Linked DNA regions of Homo sapiens. The protein of the gene in region 1 purifies or fractionates together with the protein of each later gene. This does not show direct contact. Each region holds a gene or a part of one and is shown on either strand. Other genes may lie near its edges.

Region 1 (3,651 bases):
GAGGCAGCTGGGAGAGCAGTGAGACTAGGCAAGAGGCAGGGCCAAGGATAGGCAGGCAGGACTGAAGGAGAGGTTACAGGTGATGGCTGGAGCGGCAGGTGGCAGACAGCAAGTGCTACTACAGGTGCCGGGGGCCTCCGTGTACAGGCTCCCCTGATCTTCACAGTGGCTCTGAGGAGTCAAGAACAGGCTTGCTGGTGGCCGTGGCTAGTATGAATATTTATGGAAGCCTCCGTATGCCTTCCTGCAGGATTTCTCTGTCTTCCTGTCCCACTCTTGACCCTTGCTTTAGCCACACTGGCCTCCTCGCTGTTTCTGTAACGCACCAGGTGCTCCTGCCGCAGAGCCTTTACTCGCACTATTCCTTCTACCCAGGATGCTTCCTCCCCAGGAGTCCTCCTGTTTCATGCACTTACCTTGATTCTGGCCTTTGCTTAGATGTCTCCTCAGAAGATCTTGCCTGACTACCTTATTTTAAAAGTGAAACTCTCCTATCCCGGCTTTATTTTTCTCCTTAGCATGTATCACCCTCTGAAATTCTGTACATTGTTTGTTTGTTTTTGAGACAGAGTCTCACTCACTCTGTCACCCAGGCTAGAGTACAGTGGCGCAATCTCGGCTCTCTGCAACCTCTGGCTCCCAGGCTCAAGCGATTCTCCTGCCTCAGGCTCCGGAATAGCTGGGATTACAGGCGCTCACCACCATGCCTGGCTAATTTTTGTGTTTTTTTAGTAGAGACTGGGTTTCACCATGATGACCAGGCTGGTCTCAAACTCCTGACCTCAAGTGATCTGCCTGCCTCGGCCTCCCAAAGTGCTGGGATTACAGGTGTGAGACACCATGCCCGGCCCTGGTGGTTTATTCGCTATCTTCCCCTGAAGAATGTGACTTCCAGGAAGGGAAAGGTTTTGTCTATTTCTGTTCCTTGTTGAATCTCTAGTACCTAGAACCATGTCTGGTCCTGATTAGGCACTTGGTGAATGTTTTTGAATGAATACTCTGAGCTGTTCTTTAATCGGTCCTCATGATCCTCATTGTACAGATGAGGGAACTCTGGGCGAACCTGGCCTGGGTCTTGAGCTAATTACGGGTAGGTCAGGTTCTGTACCCAAGTAGTACACACAGTGATGGGCGGGGTGGCCTGGGGCCGTGGTTTGTCAACCCCTACGCTGGAGGGTGATGTTTTGGTACAAGAGGAGAGGTGCCCCAATGCGTCCTGTGTCTGTAATTGATGGCGTTGTCTGTGTTTCCCCAGGATGTGGTTCTGAGACAGTCCCTGTCCCTGATGGCCCACGGAGCGACTCGGTGGAAGGAAGTCCCTTCCGTCCCCCGTCACACTCCTTCTCTGCCGTCTTCGATGAAGACAAGCCGATAGCCAGCAGTGGGACTTACAACTTGGACTTTGACAACATTGAGCTTGTGGATACCTTTCAGACCTTGGAGCCTCGTGCCTCAGACGCTAAGAATCAGGAGGGCAAAGTGAACACACGGAGGAAGTCCACGGATTCCGTCCCCATCTCTAAGTCTACACTGTCCCGGTCGCTCAGCCTGCAAGCCAGTGACTTTGATGGTGCTTCTTCCTCAGGCAATCCCGAGGCCGTGGCCCTTGCCCCAGATGCATATAGCACGGGTTCCAGCAGTGCTTCTAGTACCCTTAAGCGAACTAAAAAACCGAGGCCGCCTTCCTTAAAAAAGAAACAGACCACCAAGAAACCCACAGAGACCCCCCCAGTGAAGGAGACGCAACAGGAGCCAGATGAAGAGAGCCTTGTCCCCAGTGGGGAGAATCTAGCATCTGAGACGAAAACGGAATCTGCCAAGACGGAAGGTCCTAGCCCAGCCTTATTGGAGGAGACGCCCCTTGAGCCCGCTGTGGGGCCCAAAGCTGCCTGCCCTCTGGACTCAGAGAGTGCAGAAGGGGTTGTCCCCCCGGCTTCTGGAGGTGGCAGAGTGCAGAACTCACCCCCTGTCGGGAGGAAAACGCTGCCTCTTACCACGGCCCCGGAGGCAGGGGAGGTAACCCCATCGGATAGCGGGGGGCAAGAGGACTCTCCAGCCAAAGGGCTCTCCGTAAGGCTGGAGTTTGACTATTCTGAGGACAAGAGTAGTTGGGACAACCAGCAGGAAAACCCCCCTCCTACCAAAAAGATAGGCAAAAAGCCAGTTGCCAAAATGCCCCTGAGGAGGCCAAAGATGAAAAAGACACCCGAGAAACTTGACAACACTCCTGCCTCACCTCCCAGATCCCCTGCTGAACCCAATGACATCCCCATTGCTAAAGGTACTTACACCTTTGATATTGACAAGTGGGATGACCCCAATTTTAACCCTTTTTCTTCCACCTCAAAAATGCAGGAGTCTCCCAAACTGCCCCAACAATCATACAACTTTGACCCAGACACCTGTGATGAGTCCGTTGACCCCTTTAAGACATCCTCTAAGACCCCCAGCTCACCTTCTAAATCCCCAGCCTCCTTTGAGATCCCAGCCAGTGCTATGGAAGCCAATGGAGTGGACGGGGATGGGCTAAACAAGCCCGCCAAGAAGAAGAAGACGCCCCTAAAGACGTAAGTTCAGGGGTGGAGGTGGTAAGGATCAGAGGCGGGGGTGCGCATTGGCTGTGACCCTTGGTCATGTGCCTGGATAACCTTCGACTGCCCTAACCTTGCCCCTGGGTGCTGTGATGATGCCACGCTTACGGCCGTTGCACCAAGCAGACAATGTACGTGTTTTCCTTCCTCTCTGCGGTCACAGTGGTGGCATTTTCCCATCCACATACCCCTTTGTGTCCTTGATCTTTTGCTTTAATAAATCAATGGGCTGGAGCTTTACTTGTAGCCAAAGACCTAATGTTCAACTCCAGAGCAATCTGGGAGATCCCATGGAAGGGGAAAGGTCCTTAGAGATCTGGTTCATCTCCCTGTTGGTGACTGATTGCTTTTTGGAGAAGCTGGGAGATACACCCTTTAAAATATTAAAATGTATAGTACTTGTTTCTGCCTATTAATGAGACATTAGCCCAACCTACAAACATAGTAGATTCCAGGAGGCTCAGGAATGAGAGATGTGGCCTGGGCCCCTCCCTGCTGCACTCCAACCAGCCCGTAAGAAACACCCTTCTTTGTCTCCTTCCTTCTCTCCAGTCATCTTTTGTAGACAAAGTCCCTGCAAGTTCTGAAGAGATAAATGGAACCTGAAAGTGGGGAGCAAATCCCCACAATCCCCAGGAAGCCATTGGTCCTTGGCTCTATGGTCCCCAGACACTTGACAAGGCCAAGTACATCGTGCTTAAATATCAAACACCCATGCCTCCAGAATCCACCCCAGGACCCGGCTCTAATGTGGATGGCTGCTGGTCCTTTATTCTTTGGCCCCTGTGGTTAATATCTTGGCGATTTCCTTACTCTTACGGGAAGTATTGTCAGTAATTTAACAAGGCTGAGGAGATCAGTCTCCCAGGGGCAGCAGAACAGACCACAGCGCTGGCCCCTCTGGGTCTGCCTGGCACGAAAGAGACAGAACGACATGTTTACCTCCCATTCTGGGCTCCCCCTAACATTGAATTTCTGAGAAGAACCCAGGGCCTCCTGAGAGGAGGTCTCTACAGCAGGTTACCTTAGATCAACCTGCCACTGTCTAGTGGTGGCTGGA
Region 2 (3,651 bases), on another chromosome or scaffold:
TTAATTTTGTCAAAGGGTTAAACATGGTTACCCCATGACCCAGCAATACTACTCTTCTAACCAAAATAAAGGAGAAACTACGTCTACAGGAAACCTGTATGTGAATATGCCCAGTAGCATCATTCACAATAGACAAAAAGTAGAAACAACCCAAATGCCAATCAACTGATGAATGGATACACAAAATGTGATACATCCATACGATGGAATATGATTTGGCAATAAAAAGAATAAAGTACTGATGCATGCTATGACATGAACCTTGCTGTGTATTTGTTAGTATACCAAATATACTAAGGGGAAGAGGCCAGTAACAAAGGACCACATACAGTATAATTTATGTGAAATGTCCAGAATAGGCAAAATCCTTAGAGGCAGAAAGTAGGTTAGTAGTTTCATAGGGCTGGGAGGATTCTGGGGGTGGGGAGTAGTTTGCATGTATAATGAGTATGACTGGTAAGGGGCATAGCATTTTGGGGGTAATGAAAATGTTCTAAAATTGATTCTGGTGATGGGCACACAACTATATGAGTACACTTAGAGCTATTACATTGTATTCTTTAGGTATGTTCCATCATATGTAGATTATATCCCAATAAAGCTGTTATTACACATAGAGTAAGAAAGAGAGAAGTGAAGTGGATGAATCAAGAATTTAGCAACCACGTTTTGTTGAATGAAAGAGGATGAATGAGTTAATAACTACAGGTGACTAGATTGGTTTTGCGCGTCTTTACAGCCAACCTATCAGAATACTAAAAGAGCAGGGACAGACAAGAGCATCTAGACAGGCTCGTTCCTTACACTATCATCTAGAGAGGGGATCAGCAAACTACTTTTGTAAAGGGACAGAGAACAAATATTTCAGGCTTTACAGAAGACATATAGTCTCTGTCACAAATCTTTTTTTCTTACAACCCCTTAAAAATGTAAAAACTGTCCTTAGCTCCAAAGCCATACGAAAACAGAATACTGGCTGGATTTGACTCACAGGCCAGTTTGGCAACCTTTGTTCTAGAGAGCATATGTCACCTCTTACATACCCTTTTGTGATGGACAGTGGACTAGACCTGACAATGGCTGAGTCAGTAATCTTGCCAGAGATATGGAAATACTTAATTGACAGCTTTAATAATCAATAGAGGAAGATCAAAGAACACGAACGTTGTGAGTGCCATATCCCCCTAGCTTCCTACAGTTTAAAACTACCTGGCCCGAGTCTAACTTCAGTCTTTCTTGCTATAATGTCATGTCTTTTTTTTGCTCTGAAGTCAGAGAAAAGAGTCACCTATCCCCGTATCCCCCAACTCTTATACTCTGGGTCTAAATAACGGGCCCAGAGGCTCATCTCCTGCCCCCCACACTTCTTACCATTAAGGCAGCGCCTACGATACTTATGGTAGACGTGTTGTGTGAAGCCATTTTCCTTGAGCAGTTCATGGGAAGGATGCTGGAACTTGGGCAATGACTGAGGGGTACAGCCATAGCTGCCAACTGTAGGCGTCCCTTCTGAGGGGCTGGAGCTACAGAAACCACAAAAAATACTGTCACCAGGTTCCCCACAGCAGCCCCACCATGTCAGGAGGGGTCCCTCTGATCCGTTCTGTCAGCCAAGATCCATCCTCTCACAGGGTATCAAACAAGGAGGCCCAGTTACGGACCTTTAACTTATATCCATGGGTCTGATTAACTCTGCATCAACTCTCAGAGAGTTTTACAGAGGATACTGAGGCTTACAGAGATTAGGAGACTCATCCAGGGTCATAAGACTATTTAATGGCAGAAACGTGTCCAATGATAAAACTTGAGCTTTTAACCATTTATTAACTTTAAGCATTTAACCTTTTAATGAGCCATCATGGGTCAATCCATCTACAGTGAACCCTTGAACAACATGGGTTTGAAATGCATGGATCCACGCGTGGGTCCACTTATACGCAGATTTCTTCCACCTTTGCCACTCTTGAGACAGCAAGACCAACCCCTCCTTCTCAGCCTGCTCAATGTGAAGACCATGAGGATGAGGACCTTTATGATGATTCCCCTTTGCCACTCGAGAGAGCAAGACCAACCCCTCCTTCTCAGCCTGCTAAACATGAAGACCACGACGATGAAGACCTTTATGATGATTCTACTTCCACTTACTGAACAGTAAATATTTTCTCTTATGATTTTAACTTTTATTTTAGGTTCAGAGGTATGTGTACAGGTTTGTTAAGTAGGTAAACTGTACCTCACTCTCCTCCCTCTCCCCACCAAGTAGGCCCCAGTGTTTGTTGTTCCCTTCTTTGTGATTTTCTTAGTAATATTTTTTATTTAGCTTATTGTAAGAATACAGTATGTAATACATATAATATGCAAAACATGTGCTAATTGACTATATGTTATTGGTAAGGCTTCTGGTTAACAGTAGGCTTTTGGAGAGTCAAAAGTTATACACGGATTTTCAACTGTGTGCAGCTGGGCACCCCACGCCCTTCGTTGTTCAAAGATCAATTGTATATTTTCTTCAAAAGCATGCCTATTTGCAGTCTGTGCCATCTCTGCAGGGAGTAGAGAGCATTGGTCATAGGTAGGTGGCTCTCAAAGCTTGCTTTGGGAAACAGGAAACACACACTGGGGCCATCTTACTGAAATAAATAAAAAAGAGTGTGGGCCCTACCCCAAGAAGCAGGGTCAGCAGATACAGGTTGGGGCCAATAAATATGTATTTTTTTAATTTTTAAAACTTTTCAAGTAGCCTCCCAAGACATAGTAGGCTCAGAGAGACTGCCAGAAATCTGTTTATTCAACTACCTGGCTATTCTTCCTCAGACAGAAAGTAGATAGCCAGGCTTGGAAACCAATTCAGAGATTTTCTCTCTGCATGTATGAAAATCTGGTCTCACGTGACTGCCACACCACTTCTTTAGGAAAAAAGCCTACCCGTCATTCCCAGGTCCTGGGCTGAGCTTTCCACACCACTGGTTTTTTGAAAACCTCTTAGATGAGGGTCCCTTTAATTTTCAGACCAATCTTCTTGGTCCAGTCAATTTCATGGCTCGCCCACCCATCCCATAGGCAGCCTGATCACTCTTCCCCCACTGCCCCAGGTACCTGATGGAAGCAGTACGGGGCCTGTGCTCACGGGAATCCATCACCCAGCCCACATGGCTCTCCAAGGGTGGGTTTGAACTGTGTCTTGTCTTTCTTTTTCGAGGCATCTGCAAAGGTTAGCCCAGGGTTTGTTACTGTTTGTACTCCTACAACTCTGAGGAGCATCAAGCACTTGTAGGACTAAGATGGGCATGATCTCTCACATTTTACAACAGCATTTTCATATTCATTCTCGTATAAAGTTCACAGTGGTGAGCTAGGAACTGGTATGCCTATTTCAAACAGGTGAAGAAATCAAGGTTTGGGAATGCAGTGATTTGCCCAAGGACTCATACCTGGTCAATCCTCCTTAGGCCTTTCAACATGGGGTTACCACTCCCACACCCAGTATATTTTGCAGATGTGGCTACCTAATCCTAGGTAAGCCCACCAGCCTCAGAACACAGAGCAGGTGAAGGATTTAGCACTTCCTTAGCTCAGACAAGGCAAGGGAGAGAAGCAAAGCACTGGAATGCAATGAAGTAGACCCAAGACTCTGAGCAGCCCGACAGGAAT

The links. Proteins that work in one complex are often made in the same cells at the same time.
Region 2: the proteins of TACC2 (region 1) and LARP1 fractionate together in Homo sapiens (co-fractionation; one large-scale study listed by BioGRID). This does not show direct contact.

Annotation. Positions count from the first base shown.
Region 1 is NC_000010.11:122,209,142-122,212,792, forward strand, and holds part of TACC2 (transforming acidic coiled-coil-containing protein 2), read left to right. Parts: intron 1-732; exon of another isoform or gene 733-828; intron 829-1,255; coding exon 1,256-2,567; intron 2,568-3,651. UniProt on the Homo sapiens protein: Plays a role in the microtubule-dependent coupling of the nucleus and the centrosome. Involved in the processes that regulate centrosome-mediated interkinetic nuclear migration (INM) of neural progenitors.
Region 2 is NC_000005.10:154,803,753-154,807,403, reverse strand, and holds part of LARP1 (la-related protein 1), read right to left. Parts: intron 3,204-3,651; coding exon 3,097-3,203; intron 1,524-3,096; coding exon 1,372-1,523; intron 1-1,371. UniProt on the Homo sapiens protein: RNA-binding protein that regulates the translation of specific target mRNA species downstream of the mTORC1 complex, in function of growth signals and nutrient availability.